Linked DNA regions of Homo sapiens. The main gene of each other region encodes a partner of the protein of the gene in region 2 in a complex. Links are inferred from orthologs where the notes say so. Each region holds a gene or a part of one and is shown on either strand. Other genes may lie near its edges.

Region 1 (9,727 bases), on a different chromosome or scaffold from region 2:
AACCTCCGCCTCCCGGGTTCAAGCAATTCTCCTGCTTGAGTAGCTGGGACTCCCGAGTAGCTGGGACTACAGGCGTGCACCACCACGCCCAGCTAATTTTTGTTATTGTTATTTTTCTTTTTTTTTCTTTTTTTTTTTTTTTGAGACGGAGTCTCTCTCTGTCGCCTAGGCTGGAGTGCAGTGGCGCGATCTCGGCTCACTGCAAAGCTCCGCCTCCCAGGTTCACGCCATTCTCCTGCCTCAGCCTCCCGAGTAGCTGGGACTACAGGCGCTCACCACTGCACCCGGCTAATTTTTTTGTATTTTTAGTAGAGACAGGGTTTCACCGTGTTAGCCAGGATGGTCTCGATCTCCTGACCTCGTGATCCGCCCGCCTCGGCCTCCCAAAGTGCTGGGATTACAGGCGTGAGCCACGGCGCCCGGCCTATTTTTATTTTTATTTTTATTTTATTTTTTGAGACAGAGTCTGGCTCTGTCGCCCAGGCTGGAGTGCAGTGGCGCGATCTCGGCTCACTGCAAGCTCCTCCTCTCGGGTTCACGCCATTCTCCTGCTTCAGCCTCCCGAATAGCTGGGACTACAGGCGCCCGCCACTACGCCCGGCTAATTTTTTTTTTTTTTTTGGTAGAGACAGGGTTTCACTGTGTTAGCCAGGATGGTCTCAATCTCCTGATCTCGTGATCCGCCCGCCTCGGCCTCCCAAAGTGCTGGGATTACAGGTGTGAGCCACCGTGCCTGGCCAATTTTTGTATTTTTAATAGAGATGGGGTTTCACCATGTTGGCCAGGCTGGTCTCAAACTCCTGACCTCAGGTGATCTGCCCACCTTAGCCTCCCAAAGTGTTGGGATTACAGGCATGAGCCACCATGCCTGACCTTTATCTATAACTTGAGACAAATGACTGCTTCTTTCAGGAAACTGAGCCTCAGTTTCCTCTTCTGTAAAATGGAATATAATAATTGTGCCTGTCCAACAGGGTGGTTATGACGGTTCGGTCACTTTATATAATTAAAGTGCCAGCTGTGACAGCTGGCATTGTTATGATTTACCGCCACATGTCTGCAGGTGACTGTGTTCTGATGAATGCATTTCCACATCTGTGGATATGAAAGCTACATGTTGGCTTCCCAAACATACTCTCAAAAAACTCTCTGTCCACCCAGGGCCTCTCCCACACTGCCCCCAAGGATACATCCATCACGGCCACCATGCTGCGACATGTGTCAATGCCAAAACCATCAGTCTTCAGATCAGGGTCTGTGGGTAACAGGTTGAAAGTCAGAGGCCAGAGGTCAAATCCTCTCTGACCCCTCTGCCTCTGAATCTACCCTATTCCTTAACCCCGGTCACTTACGTCGTGTCACAACCTTATTGAGAATGTTCATGAGTTCTGTGGCGCTGACCTCCATGTCCTGCGGGCGGAAGTTAGGGGCAGGTCAGGGGTGACTGAAAGGGGTCTGAGAATGTCATGGAGAATGGGAACACTGGGATTGTCATGGTCAAGGGTGTGTGTGCAAGGGCAGCCACAAGGGAAGGGATGGAACGGTTAGGACGGGGCCAGGGACCCCAGGTTACTTACATCTCCAGCCAGCTGGGCAAAGAGTCTCCGGAACTGCCGGACCTCCTCACTCTCGTTGGCCTCAATGTTGGAGTAATGTGTGCGTGGGGGCTGCAAAGGGAGGAGAGCTCAGAGCAGGGGGAGGGGAACCCGGCCAGGACGGCTCCCCAAACCCAGGTACCCTGGGTGGGGAAGTCAGAGTGGGCTGGGCAGCTTGATGAGGAAAAGAATGAGGGGTGGTAGTGAATGGGGTGCACGTATGTGGGGCATGGCTAAGACCCATGGCGAAGCTGCAGACACGGCATGGGAGGAACTGGCAGAGGAATTTCACAAGAAGGGGAGGAAGGTGGGGCTTCTCTACAGGAACAGGGATGGGACCTCGAAGAGGCCTTGGCAGGAGAAGGGGGTCTGGTTGCAGAGGGGGCTTACCGGGGGCTCCGGGTTGTACTGCGCAGCCGCCTCGCTGCGAAGAGATAAGGGGGAGGGGTTAGTGCCAGGGGCGGGGCCTCCAACGGGCAGCACTACAGAACCATCAGCCCCAACGCTCCAGACCCCAGCCGTTATCTTCCTTACTTGGTTGCTGTGCCTTTCATTTGTTCTTGTCCTCATCTGTCCCAATCCACACTGCCCTGGTCGTGCCCCTCTTCTCCCTTCCTCAGGCCAACCCCACCCTCGAGGAAACCCAGAGACCGGTCCCCTGGGAGGCTCCCCTCCTGCCAGGCACACCTACCCAGTGGCAGATTTCAGTCATCTTGGCCACCCTAAACCTAAAAAATCCCACGTAGAATCAAAAGACCCCGCCCCTTGGAGGGCTCACTTCATAGAGGCTCTGCCCCAGCTTCCCAAGGCCTTATCCTCCTCAGGTGCCATCTGCCCAAGACCCTACTCCATGGCCCGCTTCCTAAATGCCCGTCTTCCCAACATCCTACCCCAGCCATTGGTCCCCGCCCCTTCAAGGGATCACTGCTAAGTGGCCGTGGCTAATTAAGCCAACCTGCCCTATCCCTACCAGGGCATTTTTCTCCATTAATCCAGCCAGTTCCCAGCAAGCCCAGCCCATTCTGGGCCATTTACCCTACCCCATTAGGTCTTGCTTCCTCCTGGGCTCACCTCCTCATTAACCCACCTAAAACCTCTGACCACACTCATAAGTCAAGCCCCTTCCGTAAAATGTCACTCAGACGCATTGGCTCCGCACCTTTAACGTTCATCTCCAGGTTAGCCAATGCAGGCTGAGCCCAGACCCATAAGCCCCACCCGCCAAAACTCCACATCAGTCCCCTCAGGACCACATTGTCCTGGTCCCACACAATCAGACTACTCCCATATCAAGCACCGCCCCCAATGACTGATATCCGCCTCACTGGGGTCCACCCCCTTACAGCAGAACTCTCAAACCAGGCCTCCCCGGCCTAATTCATGTACCCAGGTTAGCCTCCAGGTTAATCCTATTCTATTTTTAGACCACGCCCCTCCCAGACCACGCCTCACTGAGGCTCCTCCCATTCCCAGGCCCCGCCCCTCTGATAGTCTCCGCCTTACCTGATGGCGCTGATGACTCCGCCTAGGATGCGCATGGCCGTTCCACCGCCACCGCCGCCTCCACCACCGCCGCCGCCGCCGCCGCCGCCGCCGCCGCCCCCGGCCCCGCTGATCAGGCCTCCAAGCACATTTCCCAGGCCCCCACCCAGGCCCCCGCCTCCCCCGCCGCCGCCGCCGCCGCCCTTCAAGAACGAGTTAACCAGGAACATGGCTGCGACTCACTGCTGGGGGGAAAAAAGGGGACCAGTGGGTGCTTCGCCCCTGAGCCCACACCCTCCCTTCAAACACGCATTTCCGGCAGCTGGACCTGGGAGGAATCTGAAGCCTCCGGGTGGGGGTCTGAGTTTGCGAGGGCGGGTTGTCCGCGGATGGGTGGGGCAGGTATGGGGGATCAGGTTTGCAACCTCCTCAGGTCTAAAAGGCACCCGTGGGGCTTGAGGGAGCCTGGACTGGGTGCACGCGTGAAGGGGAGGGTGCAGATCTGGTGGGGGTTCTCTTGGTGGGGACCCCAAGTTGGCGTAAGGCGTTCCCGACATGTCTGGGCGCTAGAATGTGAGATCCAGAGCCCAGCCTGAATGTAGAGGTCCTTGGCAGGTCATGGGCGCGGAGCAAACATCCACGGCCTAAAGGGCCCCAGGGCGGGGTTTAGGAAATCCCAAATGTGGGCTTGAGAATTTAGGTATTCCCAGCGGCAGGATTCCAGTGTCACCTCTGGCTCTGTGGGCTCGGGTCTAAGATCGTGGCTGTGAGCTCTGGGTTCCCGGACAATGGGGTTCCCCGCTGGAACTGGGGGCACAGATCTACGATCGCGGTTCAGGACACCCCAAGGAAGAATTCACAGGGTATCTCTGAAACCTATGGGCCTGTATTTTGGATCATGAGACAGAGGGTGGAGAAGGGTCCCCGGGACGGCATAAAAGGAGATCGAACAGGTCTGAGGGTTCGAATCTGAGACCATGGATCTGGGGGGCTCCTGAGGCCGAGACTTCACGGTTTCGCCGGGTCTGGGGGCCGCCAAAGTCGGAGTTGCGGGGTGCGGAGGGGGTACGGGCCGGGCGCTTACCGCCGCACACGTCCGGAGTTCTGGGAGTCGGTTCCACTGCCGCTCCCGGGCCTCCCGCAGCGTCCGGCTCCGGAGGGCGGGGCCGGTGACTCAGGCCGCAACTCTCGGGTCGGACACTGCACCGCGGCCCTGCTGTCGCCCGCGCGGTCCTAGAGCCGAAGCGGACATTGCGCATGCGCACCCCACACCGCCCGGCTAGCTGGATCCAGGTCTGGGCCCCGCCCTACGCGTTTCCAGCGCCGGAGGTCTTAATCCCGCCCTGACTCGGTAGGCGGGGGTCTTCCCGACACCCCTCAGGTCTGGGTGGAGGCACCCGCGGACGAGAACTCGGAGGGGACCCACCCCCCGAGTGTCGTAGTGTGAATTTTCACCCTAGGGCATGCCAATATCCTTCCAGGGTGGCGGTTTTCGGTCCGCTCACTAAGGGACTCCGCACGGGCCCTCTGCAGGTGTTGTCGCGACAAACACCTCCTGGAGGCCTGGAGTATGGTTTGACTCACACGCTGGGGGACAGTCGCCCGTGTCTGTGGCGAGGATTGAGGCTGGATTGCCTTTCCCAGTGCCTGCAGCAGCCCGGATGGCAGTCAAACCGCAGGCAGCGCCTGCGCCGCCTCCCAGGCGAACCTTACCACGCCCCCGCCCCAGTCAGGGGCCACCAGAATCATTCCTTCCTGGACTGGCCCAAAGAGTGTCCTCAGTATGCTAGCCTCTAAAGAAGGCCCCAGACACAGGAAGATTCCTTTGGCCACGGCCTGGTTTCTTTATTTACTTAAAAAATATTATTGTTTTTACATAATAGAGACGGAGGTCTCGCTATGTTGCCCAGGCTGCTCTTGAACTCCGGGCCTCAAGCCGTCCTCCTGCCTCAGCCTCCCAAAGTACTGTGAGGTACTGGGATTACAGGTATGGGCTACCGGCCTTTTTTTGATTTAATTTAATTTTTTACAATAATATTTTTACATAGCCTGGTTTCTTTTCTTTTCTTTTCTTTTTTTTTTTTTTTGTTTTGAGACAGCGTCTTGCTCTGTTGCCCAGGCTGGGGTGCAGTGGCGCCATCTCAGCTCACTGCAGTCTCTGCCTCCCAGGTTCAAGCGATTCTCCTGCCTCAGCCTCCCGAGTAGCTGGGATTACAGGCATGCACCACCACACCCAGCTAATTTTTGTATTTTTAGTAGAGACGGGGTTTCACCATGTTGGCCAGGCTGGTCTCAAACTCCTGATCTTAGGTGATCCACCTGCCTCGGCCTGCCAAAGTGCTAGGATTACAGGCATGAGCCACGGGAGTCCAGTACTTTTTCAGGACTCATCGGGGGGAGCTAAATCTGGCCCCCAGGCAGGCTGGCTGGCTCTTATCCCCTACCCTGCAGGCTGGCTAGGCTTGAGTTGAATCCTGGCTGTGCCCTGTAATAACTGCACAACCCCAAAAGAGTGGCTTGATATTCCTGAGCAGCGATTTTCTCATCTGTAAAATGGGAACATGGGTTGCTCCATACCACTAGGCCCCCTATCAAAATTAAATGATATCTGCAGCAATACTGATTATTAAAAAAAAAACTTAAGTGGTGGCTGGGTGAAGTGGTTCATGCCTGTATTCCCTGCATTTTGGGAGGCTGAGGCAGGAGGATCTCTTGAGCCCAGGAGTTTGACTCCAGCCTGGGCAATATAGTGAGACCTTGTCTCTACAAATAATACAGAAATTAGCTGAATGTGGTGGCATGCGCCTAGTCCCAGCTACTCTAGAGACTGAGGTGGGGGGATCACCAGAGCCCAGGAGGCGGGGGTTGCAGTGAGCCGAGATCATGCCACTGCACTACAATCTGGGTGACAGAGCGAGACTCTGTCTCAAATAAATACTGGGCACAGTGGCTCATGCCAATAACCCCAGGACTTTGGGATGCTGAGGCGGGCAGATCACCTGAGGTCGGGAGTTCGAGACCAGTCTGACTAACATGGAGAAACCCTGTCTCTACTAAAAAATACAAAATTAGCCGGATGTGGTGGTGCATACCTGTAATCCCAGCTACTCGGGAGGCTGAGACAGGAGAATCGCTTGAACCCAGTAGGCAGAGGTTTCAGTGAGCCAAGATTGCACCATTGCACTCCAGCCTGGGCAACAAGAGTGAAACTCCGTCTCCAATAAATAAATAAATAAATTGGTGATAAATGCTTTGTAAATGCCCCCATTAGCTCTGTGTCTGTGCTCATGCTGTTCCCTCAGCCTCGAGGCCAGCTGTATTCCTCAGCTGGTAGACTCTTAGTCTTCCTTAAATAGTACAAAAACAGGCCAGGTGTGGTGGCTCACGCCTGTAATCCCAGCACTTTGGGAGGCCGAGGTGGGCAGATCACTGAGGTCAGGAGTTTGGGACCACCCTGACTAACATGGTGAAATCCTGTTTCTACTAAAAATACAAAAAATCAGCCAGGCGTGGTGGCGTGTGCCTGTAATCCCAGCTACTCGGGAGGCTGAGGCAGGAGAATCGCTTGAACCCGGGAGGCAGAGGTTGCAGTGACTCGAGATCGTGCCATTGCACTCTAGCTTGGGCAACAAGAGCGAAACTGTCTCAAAAAAAAAAAAAAGATACAAAAACAAGTAACCATCAACCACTCCTCCAAGTGCTTGACGTCCATCAGTTCCCTTGTTCTCCTAACAGCCCTGTGACATAGATGCTATTTATTATCCCCATTTTACAGATAAGTAAACCGACTCTGAGGTTAAACCCAAGCAGTCACTCTCCCTAGCCTGTATCCTTAACCACTACCCTTATGCGTTAATAATATAATTAATATAATAGGTCAAATAACAACATCACAACAGACAAAACTAGTTGCAGCTGATGTTTCCTGAGGCCTTGCTGGGGCCAGGCCAAGGTAACTGCTACACAAGCCTTGTCTGCAGGGCAGGAGAGAGAATGGAGATTCTGAAAGGCAGGGTCACGGAGGGTGGCAGAACCAGATCTGAACCCGGGCTTGGCACAGATCTTTTGGTGATGACTAATCCAGATTCCCTTCTCACCACACCCCTCCCTGCCAGACTGACTGCTCCAGCTCTCTGCCCTCTCCCGAGGCTCACTTGCTGCCAGCCCTCATGCCCTCGGCCAGGAACTCCCCTGCTGCCTTTTTTTTTCTGGCCTGATTGTGTAGCTACTCAGGCTGCAGGTGTCACCTCAGGAGTCATCTCTTCCAGAAAGACCTCCCTGTCTCCACCCAACCTGAGACTAGGTGAGGCTTCCAGTTATATGCTTTCAAAATGACTTGTACTTTCTCATGGCACTCACTGCCAATCGTAACCATATTGTCATCTAGTTCTGGCCCCCAACCCCTTATTCCCGGCAGCCCCAGGTGTTAGGTCTCTATCCTCCTCTCTGTACCACTCATGCCATGGGGTGCCTCCCCTACATGCACAGCTTAAATCCTGTCTCTAGGCTATCAACGCCCAGTTTTTTGTTTTGTTTTGCTTTCGAGATGGAGTCTCACTCTGTCGCCCAGGCTGGAGTGCAGTGGCGCGATCTCTGCTCGCTGCAAGCTCCGCCTCCCGGGTTCACGCCATTCTCCTGCCTCAGCCTCCAGAGTAGCTGGGACTACAGGCACCTGCCACCACGCTGGCTAATTTTTTGTATTTTTAGTAGAGACGGGGTTTCACCGTGTTAACCAGGATGTTCTCGATCTCCTGACCTTGTGATCCACCCGCCTTGGCCTCCCAAAGTGCTGGGATTACAGGCATGAGCCACAGCACCCGGCCAACGCCCAGTTTTTTGTGTTGTTCTTAGAGACAGGGGTTCTGTCACCCAGACTGGAATGCAGTGATGTGATGTAGCTCACTGCAGCCTGTAACTCCCGGCCTCAAGGAATCCTCCTCCTGCCTCAACCTCCTGAATAGCTACTGCTACAGGCACAAGCTACCACGCCCGGCAAACATCCAAATTTCCTTTATCTTTTTTCTTTTTTAATTATTTGTAGAGATGAGGTCTTACTGTGTTGCCCAGGCTGGTCTTGAACTCTGAGCTCAAGTGATCCTCCCACCTCAGCCTCCCAAAGTGCTAGGATTACAGGCGTGAGCCACTGCACCTGGCCCTAACCCTAACCCCCAAATTTCTATCTCCAGCCCAGACACCTCCTGCGAACTCCAGGCTCCTACATCCTGCATCATATTCACCATTTCCATGGGAAAGGATGGAAGATCTCAGAGGCTTTTTTTTTCCTTTTTCTTTTTCTTTTCTTTTTTTGAGACGGAGTCTTGCTCTGTCACCAGGCTGGAGTGCAGTGGCGCGATCTCGGCTCACTGCATCCTCCACCTCTGAGGTTCAAGCAGTTCTCCTGCCTCAGCCTCCCGAGTAGCTGGGACTACAGGCATGCGCAACCATGCCCAGCTAATTTTTGTATTTTTTAGTAGAGACGGGGTTTCACCATGTTGGCCAGGATGGTCCCAATCCCTTGACCTCGTGATCCACCCGCCTCAGCCTCCCAAAGTGCTGGGATTGCAGGTGTGAGCCAATGCACCTGGCCCTTAGAGGCATTTTAAGCTTTACATATCCTAAACTGAGCTTCTGACCTTCCTCCAGAACCTGCTCCCTCACTACCTTCCCCACCTAGGTCAGTGGCAGCTCTGTCCTTCCAGTGACTGAGGCCAAACACTCCGGGGTGGTCCTTCACCTCTCTCCTTCACACCCACTCCAACCTGTCAGCAGATATTATTGGCTCCACCTACAGAAACTAAACTCTTCCCCTCCACTGTCCCCACCCTGCCACAGCCTCCATCCTTTCCCACCTGGACACCCCACAGCCTGCTCCCTTCTGTCTGCTCCCTGCTGTCTGCTCCTCTTGTGGAGCCAGAGGAAGCCTGAGACCACCTGAGTCAGGTCAGGGCCCTGTAGGCTCAGAGCCCTGCCCTGGCTGCACCCCACTCCAGGAAAGAGTCAGAAGTTCTCACAACAGGGCCAGGTGCGGTGGCTCATGCCTGGAATCCCAGCACTTTGGGAGACTGAGGCAGGAGGATCGCTTGAACCTAGGAGTTTGAGACCAGCCTGGGCAACATGGCAAGACCCCATCTCTACAAAAAATACCAAAAACTAGCCAGGCATGGTGGCATGTGCCTGTAGTCCCAGCTACTCGGGAGGCTGAGGTGGGAGGATCACTTGAGCCCAGGAGGTAGAGGCTGCAGTGAGCCTTGATTGCACCACTGCACTCCAGCCTAAAGTTCTCATGACAGCCACCCCTAGTGATCTGTCCTGTCACCTCCCTGCCCTCATCTCTTCGCCCTGGAGAAAGTGAGAAGATGCCTGCCTGGCAAGGTCACCTGCATGTTCCCAGCTGAACAGAGACAAAACTCAGCATGGAGGCCCTGCAAGCACAGCAACATCCAAACAGCCTCTCTCAGGGCAGACATGAAGACATGAGGCCACCACTCCCTTACCAAGACCTTCTCCAGCCCCAGGTCTGGGAAGCAGATCTTTCATGTCTACACATCTAGTGATCACGGGAAGGTCCTGTCTTTTATCACCCGCTCACGTACTGTGTACTTTTTTTTTTGTTTTATTATTATTATTATTATTATTGAGATGGAGTTTCA
Region 2 (9,584 bases):
GGAAGTTTCCTCTGTTGTCTAAAAGGGAAAGCAAAACCATCCGTGAGCTTTCTTTTCTGTATTAAGTATGAGGAGATGGCCTTCTCAGAATTAGGGGACAAAAGATGGCAGTCAGTGGGGAAAAATAAGATGGTCCTTTCAGTTTCTCTTCTTCATCTGGCCACAATATTGTGAGTTCTTCCTCCTCAAGCTTATAAGCTAAAAATAACCTTAAGTGATCCTGATCCTAAATGTATCACTCTCAGCTTTATTTTTTTAAGGCTAGGGTAGGTTATAAAATATGCATAGGTGTTCTTAAATGGCAATGTTTCATTCTGTGGTGATCCTTCCTTTCCTGTACATAGGGTCATGGCTGTCCAGTAAATCCACTCATCATAAAGGGTTATTATGCTTTCTATTATTTGTTAAAGGGCTGATTAAGTACTTCGTATAACTGAAATTAAATAATAGGCAAATAAGTATTTAAACTGAGATATAATGGCATAACTGCCAATTATCAATGCTGTTTCCTATATCCCTTAAGGGAATCTACTACAGGAAGATTTTAATATATTGTTTTAAAAGCTTTGGTGTAACTGGACTATTGTCTTTAAAGCTACACCTTTAACTCCTCCTTATAGCCAGGGGATCATAGTAATAATCATTTAAATCATATGTTCTTGGAATTGGAAGGGACCTAGAAGTTGTCTAATCCAATTTTCATTTCTCATCACAGCTTGAGTAATTTTAATAATAGGAAGTTTCCAACTTCCATGTTCTAAAATCTATATAAACCACATACTATGGTGGTATTTTAATTAGGGCAAGAAAGACAGGCAAAACACAGGCAAATTGGGTTGTGTCAAGAACATTCATTTAGGATTTTAAAGCACCAGTTACTTAAAAATATATGTATTTATACAAATTCAATTACTTTACCAAGCGATGCTATGGGATAGATAGTACTTTAAGAAATTTTATTCTAAATAGATTCCAGTAGGAAACTAAATGACTGAAATGATAAACCCTACTCTGTGTAACTGCTAAACTAATTTGTAGTATATTTACTGCTCCATTTACCTTTGCTGAATCCTTCGCTTTACCTCCATTCTTAGGTGCTTTGGAGCTGGAAGCAGCCTTCTTGCACTTATCCTAAAGCAAAGGAAATGTAATGAGGCTATGGCTATCACCAATCCATCTAGCAATTAACTAGGCTGCAGTTAAATTAATCCAGACCATTCTGAGATCTCCAATTTAATTAAATAATGGAAGACTTTGGGTGTTTTTTCATGATTTTTTTTGAACAACGGTGTCAGAGAATTGTTTAAAGCAGGAGGGAAAAAGGATAGAAATAAGGAGGGAAATGTGGGTGACATTGATGCTCTAATTCCCGTGGTGCCTGACTCACCCAGACCTTATTTTGCTAATCAAAACAGAGCTTGTCAATAGATAATAAATGTCGGCAAGGGTGTGGAGAAAAGGGAACCCTAGTACACTGTCAGTGGGGATGTAGATTGGTATGGGCTATGATGGAAAACAGTATATAGGTTCCTAAAGAAATTAAAAGTAGAACTACTGTATGACCCAGTAATCCCTCTTCTGGGTATATACCCAAAGGAGATGAAATTATCACCTTATAAAGATATCTGCACTCCCATATTCACTGCAACATTACTCACAATAGCCAAGATATGGAACAACCTAGTTGTTGATGAATGGATAAAGAAAATGTCATGTATATATACATAATGGAATATTATTCAGCCTTAAAAAACGATATCCTACTATTTGTCACAACATGGATGGACCTGGAAGACCTTATACTAGATGATATAAGCCAGACACAGAAAGAAAAGTGATTTCACTTATATGTAGAATATATATAAAAGAAAAAGCTCAAAAACACAGAGAATAAAACATGGCGACCATGGTAGGGAACAGGAGGAGGAAACAGAGATATAGGTCAAAGGATACAAAATAGCAGATATGCAGAATGAACAAGTGTAGAGAGTTAATGTATAACATGAGGACTAAGGTTAATAAAATTGTATTAGGGATTTTGTTAACTAAGTAGATTTTAGCTGCTTTTGTCACAAAAAGTAGTTGTGTGAGAATGATAGATATGTAAATCTGCTTCCCTACAGTAACCATTTTATTATTTCTATGCATCCCAAACTACCATGTTGTAAACCTCAAATATACACAATAAAATGTATTTAAAAAACAAAATAGAGCTTGTCTCGATCAGGACTGGCTTTTGTGTACCAAAAGGCAAAAAAAAAAAAACAAAAAAAAACCCTGTTTTCAGTGTTATGGGAGAGAAATGAACAATGGGAAACAACCGAGGAAAGCTGGAGCAGGTTACGTATAAAAATAAAGTCCATTCACCAAAAAAGGCATTACTTACGAGTTACCAGGGGTGAGAGATAGGATGCTGAAGTGGTCTAGAAATTAAGCTACCCAGTATGGAAGGGCTGACAATTCAGTGATCGAGAGCAGTGCCTTAGAACAGCCAAAACAATAGCAAACTGAGATCTGCAGAATTAACTCTCCTGAAAATAACAAGGAGGTACTCATTTCACGTTTCCTTCTATTTGATTTACAAGAGGGTGTAGCTTGAGGGAAAATGCCTCACACTTGTTGAATTACACAGTTGTTTCTCATTCACTTTTAATCACGTTTTGAGCACCTGCTAAGTACCAGGCATTTTGCTAATGAGGAGCACAGAGGTAAAAGACACATCACTACTGTATGAAATGCGTAGCTCAGTGGTGTGATACACAAGCACAGAGAGGTAACAGAGAGCAAGGAGGGCATGGAAGAGAGGCCTCTAACTTTGGACTGGGAAGGGAGAAGATGTAAGACAAGAAAGTCTTCCCTAAGGAGCTGATGCTTGAGCTGTGCCCTGAGGAATGAAGAGTAGACCAGTTGGGCTAAGCAGACAGAAAAGGGGAGGAAGCTCCAGAGAGCAAATGAGCATGAGAGTGCCTGATGTAGTTAGGGCCTGCTCTCACTTTAAATGAACACAGACATAGCATTATTGTGGCACAACCATATAGTGTGGAGATAAAAAATGGTGGCTATGGAAATTACAAAGTAGCAGTTAAGAAATAACGTTAAGCAGTGTTTTATAAGTGGACTGTAAGTATAATTATGTAAAATATACATATAGAAAAAAAAGGAAATCCACAAAATAATACTGTTTTGGGGGCAGTGGAATTATAGGCATTTTTTCTTTTCTTCATTTTCAGGTTCTCTATATCATCGTTTGATTCATTCTACAGTTTAAAAATTGTAAGGGCCAGGCGCAGTGGCTCAAGCCTGTAATCCCAGTACTTTGGGAGGTAGAGGTTGGCAGATCACTTGAGCCCAAGAGCTCGAGACCAGCCTGGCAACATGGCGAAACCCCCTCTCTACAAAAAAATACAAAAATTAGCTGGGTGTGGTGGTGCACGCCTGTAGTCCCAGCTACTCAGGAAGCTAAGGTAGGAGGATTGCTTGAGCCCAGGAAGCAGAGATCGCAGTAAGCTGAGATCACACCACTGCACTCCAGCCTGGGCTATAGAGTAAGACCCTGTTACAAGACAGACCGATAGATAGATCAATCAATAAATAAAACTTATATGTATGTACACATACACACACACACATTTCAAAGAGTGAAATGTGAAAAAGCACAGTACCTTTGCTGTGTTCTGTGAGGTTTCTGTAGTGGAGGGACAGCTGTCCAGATCTCCTGAGAGAGCATCAATGGGGTCTTGGTCATCTGCAGGTTTCTGAGATATGAGTAGAAATAACCATCAGTGAAGAAGCAGAAGGCAAAATGCAATATGGGGTCTTTTCCCACATCACTTACAAATAAAAGATGTTTCTATAAGAAAAAAACTGACTGACATTCTTTATTAATAATAATGTATTGTAAAGGAGATAGAAAAACAAGAAAATCTTGATGGCTTTTTTTCCATCTACTCTTTAATACACGTTGCTTAGCATTCTCTGAGCCTCAGTTTTCCACCCTAAAGGGCTTTTGTGAAGACTAAAAGAGAGGTAAACAATAGTCACACACATTTATATGCATGCTTTGACAAAGTACCAGGCACAGAGTAGGCATTCAATATGTTTTAGTTTTCTAAAATGCCAAATACCCCTATGGCTAGAATAAAACAAAATTTAATGGAAATATGTTCCTATGGTCTTTACCTTTGAATCCTCTGATTTCTTTGTAGGTGGCTTCACTGGTTTGTCCTTAAAAAGAAGGCAGACTATTGGTTAAGCATAGATATCTGTAAAGGTTTACTTAGGTTTAGGCAGTAGAGAATCTATTGTCCCATGACTTGACTTGGATAAAATGGAGTGTAGACTTGCAATAACTAATAAACCTGAGTCCCCACTATTTCTTTACCAGCTTTGCTTAATTACTATTCTTTATAATCATTTGTGTAGACTTGGGGGAAACATATGAAAGGGTCTGGTCCTGGAAGTGAAAGAAACACTATTTGTGAACCTTCTGCCATCATGTATTATCACTTATAATTCTACTTAAAGTGTTATAAAAAGTTACTTGTGTTTTTACATCTTATTTACTATAGCTTATTACACTTAGAAAGTCATCAGGGATTTTTCCCAGCTTCAAAGGCAAGGGCCTTAAATAATAAATTTCCCAAAGAACGCAAGCAGGGTGAGTTGGTACTATCAAAGTGGGAAGGGCTCTAGCAGGATGTGGAATTGCTATCTTGAGGAATACTGAATGCAAGCAAGGAGAATTGGTTCCTGTAATAGGAGACCCTGAAGCTGACACTGCTATTTAAACCAGGAATCATCTTACTCACCAAAATGAATCAGTACAGAAAGAGAAGGGTGTAATTTGGTCTTCCTTGTTTCTTATTTGATGAACAGGCATGGAAAGGGTTATTTATCATCTAATTGACTCAAAAATTAGAAACTAAATAGGAAAGAGGTGGGGGACAGGCCTGGTTGACCTACGAAAGACTGGCCTCTATCATGTGGGAGACAAAAGGCCAGGGACTTTTTGGCAGAGAAACAGGATTTGTGATTGGGAATATTGCTTTGCCTGTCTTCACTTGCAATAGTGCTGATGATGATGCAGGAGAAGATAGGGAGACCCCAGGTCTTGGAGCTGCCTTATTAATTTTCCCTATTAATTATCCCAACACCAGCTCCTTTTCTGCTCTCCTTAAACAGAGATTGCTTCCTTTGAAATCCTATCACCTTAGTCATTTTTATAGCCTTTTCTTGAAAGAGAGAATCACATTTCTTGGATCACTCTTAAGCATCTGTGAGTGACTGAACAGTATTCAACCCTGTTTATACCACAGAGCCTAGCATATGCATATATAATGATATTGGCTCAAATAAATATTTACCTGCTGGTCGGCTTTGGTGACACATTAGAAGCAGTCAGTCATGGTATGTTTTATGCTATTGTAAAGGAGTATAGCTACTATTTATTTCAAGGGAGGTTTGAATTTAAAGATCTTGGTAGCATAAATCCGATCTAGCAATTTGCCTCAGTTTACCTGTCCATTATCATCCAGGAGATGTCTGTATTCAGGTGGGATAGTGTCATCTCTTTCTCCAAGCTTGTCTCTATGTTCAGCTTTAGCTTTTTCCTATATCAACAGTGAGCAGATAGAATTAATATTCATTTCCTCTTTCACTTAGAAAATACATTGTCAAATGCAGCATTCAGCATTTGTTGTACTTTCATGAGGCAAAACATATGGTCTGTTTTTATTTTTTAAGCAACAGAACAACACAGATGACTTCAACAGACTGCTAGTTGGCTAAAATATAAAATCCCGTATGCTTCTGTATGTCAATTCATATCTGTGAATTTTCTAGCTATATTTTAAATGGAAATAAATGATTAAATAATTATCTTCAGAAACCATGTTAGGAGATTAGAACCCAAAGGTATAAAATATCTTTTTCTTTTTTTCTGTATGGTTTCACTTTTCTAATACAAAATCAGGCCACTGTACCTTGCCATTTAGAGAGGTCACATTTACAACTTTGCCTATTTATAAGCAACCCTGAAGGACAACAGCTAATTTGAATGGATGTGCTGACTGCTTGTGTTGCATGGGAGGAAGCCATGCATACCCCACACCTACCTCCCAGAATCCCCTCAGGGAGGCTCCGCTGGTATCTCTGTCACAGATTCAGTGACCTTCCCCTCCAGTGGAGTACAGATTGATTTTTCTATTTCATTATAATTTCATGTTTAAAATATAGGTTAAGTTCACATCAATATTCCTATGACAATGACAGAGTCAAGACCCAAGGATTAAAATTTCACTATTAGTGAATTTTTTTTTTTTTTTTTTTTTTTTTTACCTTTACTTTATCTTCCATTGGTTTGTTCTCATCTGGGTCAGGCTGCCTTTGTCCTAGACTGTCAGAGAGTTTATCCAAGGCATCATCGAGGTCTTTGTCACTCTGCTGAAAAGTAAATAATGCTGAATTAGTCACTCATTAGCCAAACTGTATCAGAGGCAAATTAGCCCAGGAACTCCATCTTTTCAGGAGGGAACCTGTTTCCTTGGAAGAAAAAGACATCTGGGGCTGGGGCAGGGGAGTAGACAGGGTCAGAGAAGAGAAGCCTAGGAATGGAAGATCAGGAGAAGAGCGGCAGTATCTGTCACCCTACTGGGGTTGGAGGGCCAGCACCTTCCACCCAACCCTGCCCATCTCTTGGTGAAGATCCCACCAGGTTAAGGAGGTCTTAGTGGCAGCCTCAGGAGCCATATCCAGTGGGTGACCTGGAGGTCACATAAAGGGTCCAAAAGCAAATGAACCAATCATGTGTGCCTTTCATTTAGAAATTAAACACCATTAGAAAACTGGATATGAAAACAAACATCTACTAATGTTGTCAGATGGTTAGGAAGCAAGATTCTGCAACTATAGAGGGTAAGTGTTTCTTTGGTTCTGTGGGTCCTCTCTAAAACTCTAAGATCTTGAGGGGTGCATTTCAGAAAGTGCAGCGTGACCCGCAGTTTGTGGGAAGCCATGGAGCTCGGCACTGCCATCCTAATACTTCCTAAAGCACAAAACCCCAGAGACAATCTGGGGTCAGGAGAGTGGAAGGGGCTTGTCTGCCACACTGGTGATGAGTGCCCTGAAAGACTTCAGAGAATTTCTGAACTGGTGGGGAAACCTCTCTTTTCATCTTCAGGAAGCTCATGGAAGTGAAATTGCAGAAATGGGAGCTGGTATTCTAGAGGAAAAAAATTATGGACAACAATATCACTGTAACTAAGATAGCTTATTTCCTCTAACATTTATTTACTGTATGATTCAGGCAGCTTATTTAACCCCTTTCAGCTTCAGTTTCCTTGGCCGTGAAATGTGAATAATAGTAGTACTTATACTCCTAAGTTGCTGAGAAAAGTAAATGATTGAAAAGGCATTTAAAACAATACTAGTTGTATGTTAGGACCCAACAAATGGTAAATTATTATTAGTATTATTATAGCAAAATCCATATTTTTCAACACATTGCATTCAAAATTCCACCTCTAAATGAATTCAATTAAAATGTGTTTAATATCTACATTGTATAAGACACCATGCTGAACTCTGTCCAATACTGTATAGAACTTTCCAGTTGATTTTCAAAATGTTTTCACATACACTATCCAGTTTTATTTGATGCCCACAATGGTTCTCAGTGAACTAAGCAGGCTTTTTTTTTTTGAGGTAAAAAGCTCAGGGAAGCTAAGTCAGTTGCTTGAAAACAAATTGTTAAAAAGTGAATAGAACCCAGGTCTTGGGACTGATAAAGCTTTTCCCTGTCATGCTTAGTCACATCCATGATCTTCTATTTTCTTTGAAGCAGTTTTCCTGTTGGAGTGATTTTATTACACAGATCTTTGAAATCATGTCTTCAAATGCTTTCAGTGTATGTAACACTGTTAGTAACAATCTAATAATCACAGCAAAGAAAGCTCCCGTGAATTATCATGGTTTATTTGACTCTTCGATTTCCTAATATTTTTATCTAAATAAAGCTTTATACCTTGTTTTAGTGACATCTTCAAATAAAATGTTAACTAAAAACAAGCCTCTCTGATGGGAAATGTGATCAGAGAAGTGTCATTGTAAAACCTACTTCTTAAAGGCAAAAAAGTTTTTGATTGCAAATGTTTACTGATAGCCTTCATCAGGGCAGAATCTCTGGCCTGAATATTAAGAACTGAAGTGTAAACGGCAGCCTAGGCTATTAATGATTCTTCCTTTCTGTTGCATGGGGACTTTCTTCATTGTGGGTGTGTTTACATACACACATGCACATGCACATGCACATACACACACACGGGGCATTTTACTGGTTTTAAGTGCTTTATTATAATCCAGGATTATAGCTGCTAATGGTAGAGCTGCCCGGGGCCAGGTCTGGGCTTTGTCATTTGTGCCTCTGGATATTTTCAGATGATCCTGAAGCTGACGCAACAGGATGAAAATCCATCAGAATCTCAGACTACAGCACTAAATATGCTTTGATGCTACATCAAACGGAATGGAAGCATAGCTGACTTCGCTAAAGTTACTTCATCTCCATCTAGCAAATGAGGCACTGTTCTCAACCAAAGGAGATGGGGATCTGGTTTAGGGCAATCCCTTTATAATTTGATGTGCTGTGGTCTCCTTGGTAATGTATAATTTGGTATTGCACAGGTGATTAGTCAAGGAAGTCTGGAAAAGCTTTGGTCCCACAGCCTTGCCTCACAGCATGTAAATAATTAAAACAATATTGATGCTGAGGTTCTTCTACTGCTAGTATGAAAGTGACAAATTTTTACTGGTGTGAATTGGGAAGAAAACAATGCTATTCCATGACGTTTGTAAAATGTTTGTAAAAGCTCAAACATGACGATTCCATAAAATAAACTTGAGGTTAAATAATGGGTAGTAAATTATAGAATGTATAAGAAAAAATATAAAGGAGAAAATCAATTATCAGGAAAGCTAAAGAACTTTTCAAATCTAGTAATTTGAATATAGACACAATGCACTTTATTGCACTTTCAATTCTTATAAAGCAACAATAATATTAAGGTCCTTGACTATGTGTACAATGTTTTCACATATATAGTTTCATTTAATCATTTCAAAGTTAATCTCTGCCATCTCGCTAAATCATCAGTCTCGGCTCTTCTGAAATAGAAGGTGCCTGATCTTCCTAATAATTCTGCCTATTTTCATTTGCTTTAAACAGGCGCCCTATTTTCTTTCTAGTTGTGGCTGCGCAAAAACATTTATCTCCCAAATAAGATGTGCTGCTTACCGAGGTATCACGGGGTGGGGCTCCAGCTTGGGTCGTTGAAGCTGGGGTTTGGGAAACCACTTCAGAGATGGCAGCAGCAAGTTTAGCATCTTCAAATTTCTTTTATTGAAAAAAATTTTATTAGTAACATGTTGTATATAAAATTATGAGCACAATGCCATCACTTAACTATAACTCTTAAAGATAGCTTAATGACTGTTTATTCTCTTGACCAAATAGACTCATAATAACATATAATTTTAAAAGAAATTTAAATTCTTTCTTCTCTATTGTATTATTTTATACAATTTGCTAT
Region 3 (9,895 bases), on a different chromosome or scaffold from region 2:
ACTGCACTCCAGCCTGGGTGACAGAGTGAGACTCCACCTCAAAAAAAAAAAAAAAAAAATCCAGAACCTGCAGATTGTGCCTCTGATGCATCTCAAACATCCAGGGCCAGGGAGAAAATAATCTAAAGAAAAATACTACTGAAAAAGATTCCATTGCCATGGCCCTCTGAGACACACACATTCTTATTCTCTTATTTTCTCTCTCTCTCTCTCTTCTTCTCTCTCTCTCTCTTTCTATCTCTCTCTCTCACTCCCTCTCTCATTTACTCACAAGGTCAGTGGCCCAGACCCAGGCAGTTCTGGATAATCCCAGCTGTTTCTGACTCACCACCATCCTCAGGGCTGGCTGACTCACTCCAGGAAGGTTTTCCACCATGAAGTGTTTGTCTATGTCCTTGTGTTCCCGTGAAAAGGATTGTGTGGTCAGAGAAAGAGAAGACTTTGCTGGGTCAGTGAGATAGCATAGTGTGAGAGGCTTTGGGAAGTAGAAAAAGCAACATTAACTCAGGTTTAAAAACTAGACTTTGTCCAAATGGTTGGGGAAAGTAGTCATTGTATGTGTTTGCAATTAAATTTGGGTGGCATAGGACAGCCTAAAGCCCTTTGTAAGCAGAGCTCTATGTGCGCAGCGATCCCTAGAAGGCTGGCAAGGGGAGTGGCCAGGGCTGCACCAAAGAGGGTGTTGCCTAGCTGGGGAAGAGGAACTTCAGGTGAGCCAGGAGGCTCTTCTGCTCCCAGGCTGTGCAAAGCTTCTGAGTTGACTGGAATGATAGGTCTGATCTGCCCATTTGTTGCTAAAATGACTTAGGAGGGAAATGACCTCCACCTGCCTGGGAGGAGTCACTTCCTCCAGAGATGAGCTGTCCTTGAGGAGATCAGTGGGAGGAGAAGCCTGCGCTCTGCCCCACTGGGCAGAAGGACAAGCTTTCTCCCAAGAGCCTCGAGCCCAGAAGAAGTCGGGGTGGGGCCAATGGAAATCAGACAGTGGAACAAATGAACAGCTTCCAGGACAGGGCTGTCGCTTTCCTCTGTTTTCAATTGTGATGGCTTCATGAAACCCTTGCACCAGAAACCCATGAGCTAGAAATGAATGCCTGTATCCCCATCTCTGGACTCAGAGTCCAGAGTGCCAACCATTACACAATGGAACCTGTGTCCCCGCCTTATTCAAGAGTAAAGAAAGCAAAGCCTGGTGGTGGACGGTGGTACCTGCCCATCAGGCAGCATGCCCAGACTTGCAAACCAGAGATGGAGGATGTCAAATAAAAACAAAACCATGGGAGACTGAGGCAGGAGAATCACTTGAACCGGGAGGCGGAGGTTGCAATGAGCCAAGATCGCGCCATTGCACTCCAGCCCGGGCAACAAGAGTGAAACTCTGTTTAAAAAAAAAAAAAAATCCAGACTTTTATAAAGGGACACTTCAATAGAAAGAAAGACTATTGCAGGCCAGGCGCAGTGGCTCACACCTGTAATCCTAGCACTTTGGGAGGCCAAAGCAGGTGGATCACCTGAGGTCAGGAGTTCAAGACCAGCCTGGCCAACATGAGGAAACCCCGTCTCTACTAAAAATACAAAAAAATTAGCTGCACATGGCGGCTGGTACCTGTAATCCCAGCTACTCAGGAGGCTGAGGCAGGAGAATCACTTGCACCCGGGAGGCGAAGGTTGCAGTGAGTGGAGATTGCACCACTGCACTCCAGCCTGGGCAACAAGAGTGAAACAAGAAAGAAAGAGCGAAAGAGAGAGAGAGAGAGAAAGAGAGAAGGAGAGAAGGAGAGGAAGGGAAGAAGGGAGGGAGAAAGAAAGAAAAAATAGAGAAAAAGAGAAGGAAGGAAGGAAAAGAAAGAAAAGAGAAGAGAAAAGAAAAAAAAAGAGAGAAAGACAATTCCAATTCAGAGAATCTGCAAGCAGCTCAAAATCAAACAGAAAAAGATTCTTCTTTTCTAGGGTAAAGGAGGAGCAAGTGGAGATAAGCAGACTCTTGGGAGGGGAAGCTGGACAAGTGAGGGGAAATGACCAGTGGGAGCTGACAGGAAAAGGGTCTTGCTGTGTTCAGTCAATTCCCAGGAGAAGCTGGGCAGGGAAGTGACTTGGCAGGGACACTCCACTTTGTTTGTGCTTGTTCAGGCTTGGGGGCAAGCAGCATTCAGGGATCTGTAGGAAAGAGAGAAGTCTGACCAAAGTTTTGTCAAGCAAAGGGGGTAAGCAATGGGTGTCAGAGACAAGAATAGATGGGGGCAGAGGAATAATAGTGACAAAAATACTTGCTTTAAGAAAAGGTAACATCATGGCTCTCATATTAGTATAAAATAAACACATTTTAAAGATTCCATTTCGGCAGGGTGCAGTGGCTCACACCTGTAATCCCAGCACTTTGGGAGGCAGAGGTGGGCAGATCACCTGAGGTCAGGAGTTCGAGACCAGCCTAGCCAACGTGGAGAAACCCTGTCCCTACTAAAAATACAAAATTAGCCAGGCATGGTGGCAGGCACCTGTAATCCCAACTACTCGGGAGGCTGAGATAGGAGAATCACTTGAACCTGGGAGGTGGAGGTTGTGGTGAGCCGAAATTGTGCCATTGCACTCCAGCCTGGGCCAACAAGAGTGAAACTCCATCTCAAAAAAAAAAAAGAGTCCATTTAACTTGATTAAACGAGGCAATCTGGTGGATGTTATAACTGGTTCAAAGGAGAAACCAAAGCAGCACAATTTACATGACGTGAAGAGTACTGAAATGGAATATGCAACTAGACAAAAAACTGGTCTCTCTACAGGGGGACTGTAGTGCCTCTACTGGACAGAATGCATTTGCATATCTATAGGAAAAATTATTTTCCATTGCTACAGTTATCTACAACTTAGATTACTTACTTAGAGTTACTTAGGTAACTATACATTGCTACAGTTATATACAACTTAGAGTTATAAAATAACTCAAAAACAATGAAAGGGGCTCGTGTGGTGGCTCACACCTGTAATCCCAACACTTTGGGAAGCTGAGGCAGGCGGATCACCTGAGGTCAGGAATTCGAGACCAGCCTGGCCAACACGGTGAAACCCCATCTCTACAAAAAATATAGAAAATTAGCCAGATGTGGTGGTGTGCACCTGTAATCCCAGCTACGTTGGAGGCTGAGGCAGGAGAATCGCTGGAACCCGGGAGGCAGAAGATGCAGTTAGCTGAGATCGTCAAGATCCTGTCACTGCACTCCAGCCTGGGTGACAGGGTGCTACATCTCAAGAAAAACAAAAACAACAACAACAACAACAAAAACAATGAAAGGCTAGACCCAGATCTTCTGGAAGGAGATGCTCTAAACCAGGGTTTCTCAGCCTCTACATGACTGATGTCTTGGACTAGATCATGTTTTGGGTGGAGAATGTAAACCAAAAATAAAATTCTAAGCCTCCCCCTCCCCTACCCCCGCCAACCATCTAAATGGATGGTTCCTCCTTAGCCGAGGCTCTTAAAATTTTAACCTGAAATTTTCAGGCCATGAAGGAAAGGCAAGGTCGGACATGCTTCATTATACCTCTCCAGCGTGAACATCAACCAGAGTTTAGGTCTGATAAGAAACATTTTACTGCCTGTTCACTCTGAAGCCTGCTAGCTAAAAGCTTCATCTATGTGATAAAACTTTTGTCTCCACAACCTCTTATCGCAACCCAAACATTCCTTTCTATTGATCCTGGGCCTTTAGACAAACTCAACCAATTGTCAACCAGAAAATGTTTAAATATTTACCTATATCCTGGAAGCCACCCCCACTACCCACCCACCACCCCCCGCCACTTTGAGTTGTCCCGCCTTTCTGAACCAAACCAATGTATTTCTTAAATGTACTTGACTGATGGCTCTTGCCTCCCTAACATGTATAAAACCAAGCTGCACCCCAACCACCTCGGGCACATGTCCTCAGGACTTCCTGTGTCACAGGTGTGCATCTTCAACCATGGCAAAAGAAACTTTCTAAATTAAATGAGACCTGTTTCAGATTTTCTGGGTTCACAAGAGCTATCTTGGACATTGGAAGATGTTCAGCGGCATCCCTGGCTTCTACTTAGTAAAGGCCAGTAGCACCTCATCTCCTAGCTGTGACCATAAAAACTATCTCCAGACATTCCCAAATGTCTCCTGGGGTGGGTAGGGGACAAAACTGCCCCCAGTTGAGAACCACTGCTGTAGACCATGCACAGTTTTCCAGTGAAACCCAAATTCTTCCCTACTACTGTAGAGAAGAAGAGGAGGTAATTTCTGCCCATCTGCATTTCTTGGCACGCACCCATGTCTCTGTGTGTGAGATGAGAATCACACCCTAGCTCCACAACAGAGTGGTCACAGTAGCCAACACAGGCAGTATTCTAAATGCTCTCTCCCTATAGTAACCCAACTAATCCTGCCAGTTAAATATGAGTTTCAGGTAAACAATGAATCATATTTTCTTTTAGAATAAGTATGTATGCCCATGCAATATTTGGGCCCTACATATACTTTAAAAGTATCTGTTGTTTATCTGAAATTCAAATTAAACATTTGGGAGGGTTGTTGTTTTATTGGCCAAATCATTTTATTTTATTTTATTTTTGATATGGAGTTTCGCTTTGTCACCCAGGCTGGAGCGCAGTGGCGCGATCTCGTCTCACTGCAACTTCTCCCTCCTGGGTTCAAGCGTTTCTCCTGTCTCAGCCTCCCGAGTAACTGAGATCACAGGTGCCTGCCACGACGTATTTTTAGTAGAGACGGAATTTCACCATGTTGACCAGGCTGGTCTCGAACTCCTGACCCCAGGTGATCCGCCTGCCTCCGGCCTCCCAAAGTGTTGGGATTACAGGTGTGAACTACCGCACCCAGCCTTATTGGCCAAATCTGACAACCCTATCTATAATCAAATAAACAGCTGAGCAGTAGTAATTGCAGCATTGTGATTGCAATAGGCCTCCGGTGGCTTAGAGTCCCTGTTCTGCCTGTGACTGTTGTGCCACATTGGGGACGTCATTTAGCGTCTCCGAGGCTCAGTTTTCTCATCTGTAAAATGGGGACAATATCAGCGCCTTCTTCAGAGTCGCTGGGAGGATTAAATGAGATGATGTATGCAGAGCCGTTAAGACGCTGTTTGGCACAAAGTTCAGGGCAGCTGGTTTAGTTTCCTCGACTTCACTACCTGACCCTCTGCTAACTCCCCGGGTGTTTTCCGGACGGCCACAACTATCCTAGCCTTCTTCCCTATGGGCTGCAAAGGTGGCCTCGGGTTCCGGTGGGAGCCCCAACTCTGGACCGCGATTCGCGAGCCTCCCCGGCGCCGGGCCGCGCCATCCCGGGAGCTGTCCGCAGATGGCAGCACCGGCCCCGGGTCGCGGCGTTCCCGGCGCTCGGCAGGCCGCAGGATGGCCTGGTCCCGGGCCGGGAGCCCAGCAGGCCGGGAGCGGCTGAGGCCACACCCCGCGGGCCGGGCCGCTTCCCTCCGGTGAATCATCGCTCGCAGCGGCGGCGCCCGCAGTGGCCGCAGCAGCGCGCCGGGCCCTGGCCGCGCCCCAGCCGAGCGCAGCGCGGAGTCGCCCCGACCTTTCTCTGCGCAGTACGGCCGCCGGGACCGCAGCATGGCGGGCATCGCGGCCAAGCTGGCGAAGGACCGGGAGGCGGCCGAGGGGCTGGGCTCCCACGACAGGGCCATCAAGTACCTCAACCAGGACTACGAGGCGCTGCGGAACGAGTGCCTGGAGGCCGGGACGCTCTTCCAGGACCCGTCCTTCCCGGCCATCCCCTCGGCCCTGGGCTTCAAGGAGTTGGGGCCCTACTCCAGCAAAACCCGGGGCATCGAGTGGAAGCGCCCCACGGTAGGAAGCGCGCGGCAGGACGCGGGCAGGGCGGGGTGCCGGGCAGGGCGGGGTGCAGGCCGGCCCGCGGCGCGCTGGGGCGGGGGGCAGCCCGGGTGCTGCAGTGGGGAAGCCGCAAGCCAGGACCTCGCAGTCCTGCGACACCTCCGCGCCGCCAGAGCCCGGGACTCTGTTCGAGCGTGGGGGGACTCCCGGGGCCTTCCCTCTCTTCCACCCACCACGCTTTCCTGGGCGGGTCGAGGCGAATCACTGCCCTCAGATCCCACTAGCAGGCCACTTTAGGACTTCACAAAAACTCAGGGTGATGCAGGAGGCCGGGGTGAAACTTTGATTGGACTCTAGCGGGGAGCTGGAAGGGAAGGGGAATCGGGTCTGCAGGGAAGGGACGGTGAGAGGCAGCATCTACCAGACAAAGTCCGTCTCCAACTGGGGTTCTGTCTGTTCATGGAGGGGGACAGGCCATAGCCTGGTCATTTTGTGACTAAGGATAGTCTCCTGCAGCCCTGGGGTTAGATTTATTTTTCCAAAGGGGAGCCAGCGATACCTCCTCATAACATTGACACTGGTAATTAACCCAGGACACGGAGGTGTCTCATGGTTTCCCTGGCGGGAATCACCCGGGAAACCTCCGGGAGCCCTCCAGACCCCCTTATCCCGTCCCCCAGGGTCTCTGACCTCCCGGCCCTGGGACAACTTGTGCTCCCCAATCTACTTGTCCATTCTGTTTCTTGGGGAACCCCTGAGGCTCCTCCTCCTTTGGGACACTTCCCCAGGCTTCCCCTACCACGCCTAGGAAAGCCTGCCCTGAAGTCCAACTTCTAGATTCCTGTTGTGAGAACAAGGCTTCCAGCTCTGCTTCCACACCCAGCAGCCTCCCAGGTCACCTTCTGTTACCCTAAATCCAGCCCATAGGTAGCAAGGGCTGCAGGAAGCGCCCTAGCCCAGACTCAGAGCACTTGGGTTCTTCTTCTTGCTAACCTGCTGGTGACCTTGAACGAGCCATTTAACCTCTCTGTGCCTCCATGTCTTCATCTAAAAGAAAACATGCTGCCTAAATATTTTCTCTCTTTTGTGGCCCACTAGGCCCTGCCGTCATGGCCTCCTTTCAGTCTCTCAAAGAGCCGGTTCTTTCCTGCATGAGGCCTTCTCACCAGCAAGGCACGCTGTTACCTGGAGTGTGGCTCACTCTCATTCTTCCCAACTTAGTCACATGTTCCCTTCCTAAAGAGGTCTTTTCTGACCCTTCTTAGCAGCCACCTCCCCACCTTGTTTTTCTCTGTCACCCCACTCATTTCCTTCATAGCATTGTCACAGTTTAGAATATAATCACATGTATTTGTTCTTCCTACTGAACTGCAGGAATCATGTGTATATTATTTACCAGTATATCCCCAGTGCCTGACACATAACCATGCCTTTCACAGTATTCATTCATTCATTCATTCATTCATTTACTCACTCATTTGACAACACTGATTGAGCACCTGTTACATGCCAGGCACTGTCCTGAGAGCTCAGGAGATACACCAGTGAACACAAAAGAAGTGACTGTTTGTAGAATATGGATGCAGGATTGTAATGTGCCTCAAATGAAATTATGGTTGTGAAAGTGATACGCTGACCTGACTCAGTGCCTCACACCTGTAATCCCAGCACTATGGGAGGCCAAGGTGGGAGGATCGCTTGAGCCAGGAGTTCAAGACCAGCCTGGGCAACACAGTAAGACTTGTCTCTATAAAAAAGTAAAAAAAAAAAAAAAAAAAGTGAAACACAAACCAAGAGAATGTGTTCACTTTACATTTGCATGGCACTTTACAGTTTACATAGTGAGTTCACATACTCATTCACTTATTCTTTCATTCATTCAGTAAGCATTTCTCGAATACCTACTATATGCTGGGCACAATGCATATGGTTTCTGCTTCTGAAGACTTACTTCTGAGGCTAGTGAGGGGACAGAGACAGGTCCCCCAACAGTTGGAAATGCCTGTGGGACTTCCAGATGAGGATGTAGAGGTCTAGAGATGATCTAGCGCCACTGCTTAGGGCAGGCGGGCTGTGCACTGCACAACTAAGGAAGAGTGTGACTTTTACGATCCCCATTTGCCAGTTGAAGAAATTGAGGCTTGGGAAGGTTAAATACTTGCTCAGAGTCAAGTGGATATAGGGCATAGATCCAGGACTGTGTGTAGTCTGTGCATGTTGAGCCTACCCCTTATGGCTGCGCTCTCTGCCTCCTTCCTACCTTCTCAAATGCTGCTGAGGTCAGGCAAGGGGAGCACAGTTGTTTCCGCTGGATTTGAACACTAGCAAGTCATTGGTGAGTTTAGCAGAGCAATTTCAATGGAAAGGTGAGAGTAGAAGCCAGATTGTTGTAGACTCCAGAGTAAAGGAACTGGAAATTAAGAACATGATCAACTTATTTAAGAAGGACCCCCGGGAAGAGAGGAGAACTGATAGGTAGAGTAGGACCTGGACTTTGAGAGCCTGTGTTTTTTTCATATGAGAACAACTTGAATGTGTCATATGTTGAATCACCAGGAAGAAGGGATTAAAGATAAAGGCAGGGAGGGGGCAGTGAAACAGGATCCCTGAGGAAGTGAGAATACGGGTTGTGGGCAGGGGAGGGGAGCAGGTTAGCCTTGCAGCAGGAGGAGCTGCTCTTCCTCGGAGAGAGGATTTCACAACACTGGCAAGAGTGGCTCCAGTGCCTGGAGCGGGGATTAAAGCAGTAAGTCCAGTGGGGTCCAAGGGCCATGCAGGGGTACAGTGAGGAGAAAGCAGGTGTGATCCGGGTGGCACATCAGATCCTTCCAGCAACCAGTCTGTTAGGAGCAAGGGCAGATGTTGTGAGCCCCTATGTTTCCCCCAAGAAAATCAAACCTCTGAGAGGTTTCTCACTTGCTTATCTTCAGCTGGCCGAACTCAGCCTCAAACCCATATGTCCTGTCTCCAAGTTCAGTGACTGTTATCATCAACTTCTTCAACAGTAATAATAATAGATCACATTTATGGAGTGCTTGCCAGGGCATGTTTACATCATTATCTCATTTAACACTCAGAACAATCCTCTGTGGTGGGTGTTTTCATCGTTCCCATTTTGCAGGTGAAAAAACTGAGACTTCAAAAGGTTAAGTGACTTCCCAGGGTCCTACGACCTACATAATAAGTGGCAGAGCCAGGATTCAAACCTAGGTTATCAGAATAATGCAGCAAAGCCCAAACCCTCAGCCCCTTTTCACTGACTGGTAAGACCCATATTTAATTCGATGCCCTACATGCCGTGCACAAGTTTCAGTTTTCTGAAGCATCGCTTAGATGCTTAGGTGTTTAGCACCACTCTGAACTCTGACTTTTCTAGAGAGGCTGCTAAAGGCATTAGAAAGTTTCTGAAGTATAATGGAAAAACCCTGCTGGAGTAAGTGCCTGGCACACTCAGGATTATCAGTGTGATTCTTTATAATAAACAGGCTCCCAGCACCAAGCCCAATCTATTCCATCAGCTGGATAAGAGCTCTCTGGCAGGCCTTGGGCCAAGCTGGCTTCCTTTGCCTCAGCAGAAGAGCATTCTGATTCTCTCTGCCATCCCCAAAACTGACAGGAGCAGAGAGAAACAAGGCAGAGGCATGAAGGGAATGTCCTCTGCGGCAGATGGTGCTTCCGGAAGAGCTCCCACAATCTGAGCTAGAATGAACAGGGGCTAGATCCAAGTCTCATATAGGCATACTTCTGCTTGACAGAGTGGGCATGCCGAGGGCCGTTGGGTGGAGGCAGGCGTGTGCAACCCAAGCAGACATGAGACGCAGCTCCTTCAAGGCAAGGTTGCCTGAGCCCAGAGAGGCTCAAATTTGTGCCCCAACTTCCTCTGTGGCTTTTGGGTGGGGCTCTTCAGAATCGAAACACACTCAGAGGGCTGCTGAAAGGGCTAAGAAGTGTTCAAGGTTGGCTTCCATCAGGCTGCTCATGACAATGGCCCCTGAGGTTTTAACACCCTTGAACGCTTGGTACTAAATCAATTAGAGGCAGGGCAGGAGCAGAAAGAGTTGGCGCATTTGAT

Evidence for each region.
Region 1: the proteins of CAST (region 2) and CAPNS1 are in contact, whole or in part, in a crystal structure (PDB 3BOW), measured with the Rattus norvegicus proteins. The link is inferred for Homo sapiens from one-to-one orthologs. Residues at the interface, in NP_445747.2 of Rattus norvegicus: Pro652, Ile653, Asp654, Ala655, Leu656, Ser657, Asp659, Leu660, Asp661; in NP_058814.1 of Rattus norvegicus: Phe103, Leu106, Gln109, Leu110, Ile125, Lys128, Val129, Arg132, His133, Leu136, Phe166, Trp170, Lys174, Gln177, Lys181.
Region 3: the proteins of CAST (region 2) and CAPN2 are in contact, whole or in part, in a crystal structure (PDB 3BOW), measured with the Rattus norvegicus proteins. The link is inferred for Homo sapiens from one-to-one orthologs. Residues at the interface, in NP_445747.2 of Rattus norvegicus: Glu571, Leu572, Asp573, Ala575, Leu576, Asp577, Glu578, Leu579, Ser580, Ser582, Leu583, Gly584, Gln585, Arg586, Gln587, Pro588, Leu596, Asp597, Asp598, Lys599, Val600, Lys601, Glu602, Lys603, Ile604, Lys605, Ala606, Glu607, His608, Ser609; in NP_058812.1 of Rattus norvegicus: Glu62, Leu63, Ser68, Lys69, Gln99, Gly100, Ala101, Leu102, Gly103, Trp106, Lys161, Asp162, Leu165, Leu166, His169, Ser196, Gly197, Gly198, Thr200, Ser241, Asp243, Ile244, Thr245, Asp249, Ser250, Glu251, Ala252, Val253, Val259, Lys260.

The regions. Positions count from the first base shown.
Region 1 is NC_000019.10:36,134,592-36,144,318, reverse strand, and holds the start of CAPNS1 (calpain small subunit 1), read right to left. Parts: upstream 4,254-9,727; 5' UTR 4,162-4,253; exon of another isoform or gene 4,054-4,161; intron 3,330-4,053; exon of another isoform or gene 3,323-3,329; 5' UTR 3,308-3,322; coding exon 3,099-3,307; exon of another isoform or gene 2,755-3,098; intron 2,694-2,754; exon of another isoform or gene 2,641-2,693; coding exon of another isoform or gene 2,636-2,640; intron 2,020-2,635; coding exon 1,986-2,019; intron 1,668-1,985; coding exon 1,578-1,667; intron 1,411-1,577; coding exon 1,353-1,410; intron 1,256-1,352; coding exon 1,191-1,255; intron 1-1,190. UniProt on the Homo sapiens protein: Regulatory subunit of the calcium-regulated non-lysosomal thiol-protease which catalyzes limited proteolysis of substrates involved in cytoskeletal remodeling and signal transduction. Essential for embryonic development.
Region 2 is NC_000005.10:96,762,078-96,771,661, reverse strand, and holds part of CAST (calpastatin), read right to left. Parts: exon of another isoform or gene 9,389-9,584; coding exon 9,290-9,388; exon of another isoform or gene 8,463-9,289; coding exon of another isoform or gene 8,434-8,462; intron 6,442-8,433; coding exon 6,337-6,441; intron 5,610-6,336; coding exon 5,517-5,609; intron 4,225-5,516; coding exon 4,180-4,224; intron 3,865-4,179; exon of another isoform or gene 3,756-3,864; coding exon 3,663-3,755; exon of another isoform or gene 3,269-3,662; coding exon of another isoform or gene 3,231-3,268; intron 1,132-3,230; coding exon 1,060-1,131; intron 19-1,059; coding exon 1-18. Other genes in the region: ERAP1 (endoplasmic reticulum aminopeptidase 1), read left to right, coding at 3,231-3,268.
Region 3 is NC_000001.11:223,707,040-223,716,934, forward strand, and holds the start of CAPN2 (calpain-2 catalytic subunit), read left to right. Parts: upstream 1-5,499; 5' UTR 5,500-5,601; coding exon 5,602-5,838; intron 5,839-9,895. UniProt on the Homo sapiens protein: Calcium-regulated non-lysosomal thiol-protease which catalyzes limited proteolysis of substrates involved in cytoskeletal remodeling and signal transduction. Proteolytically cleaves MYOC at 'Arg-226'.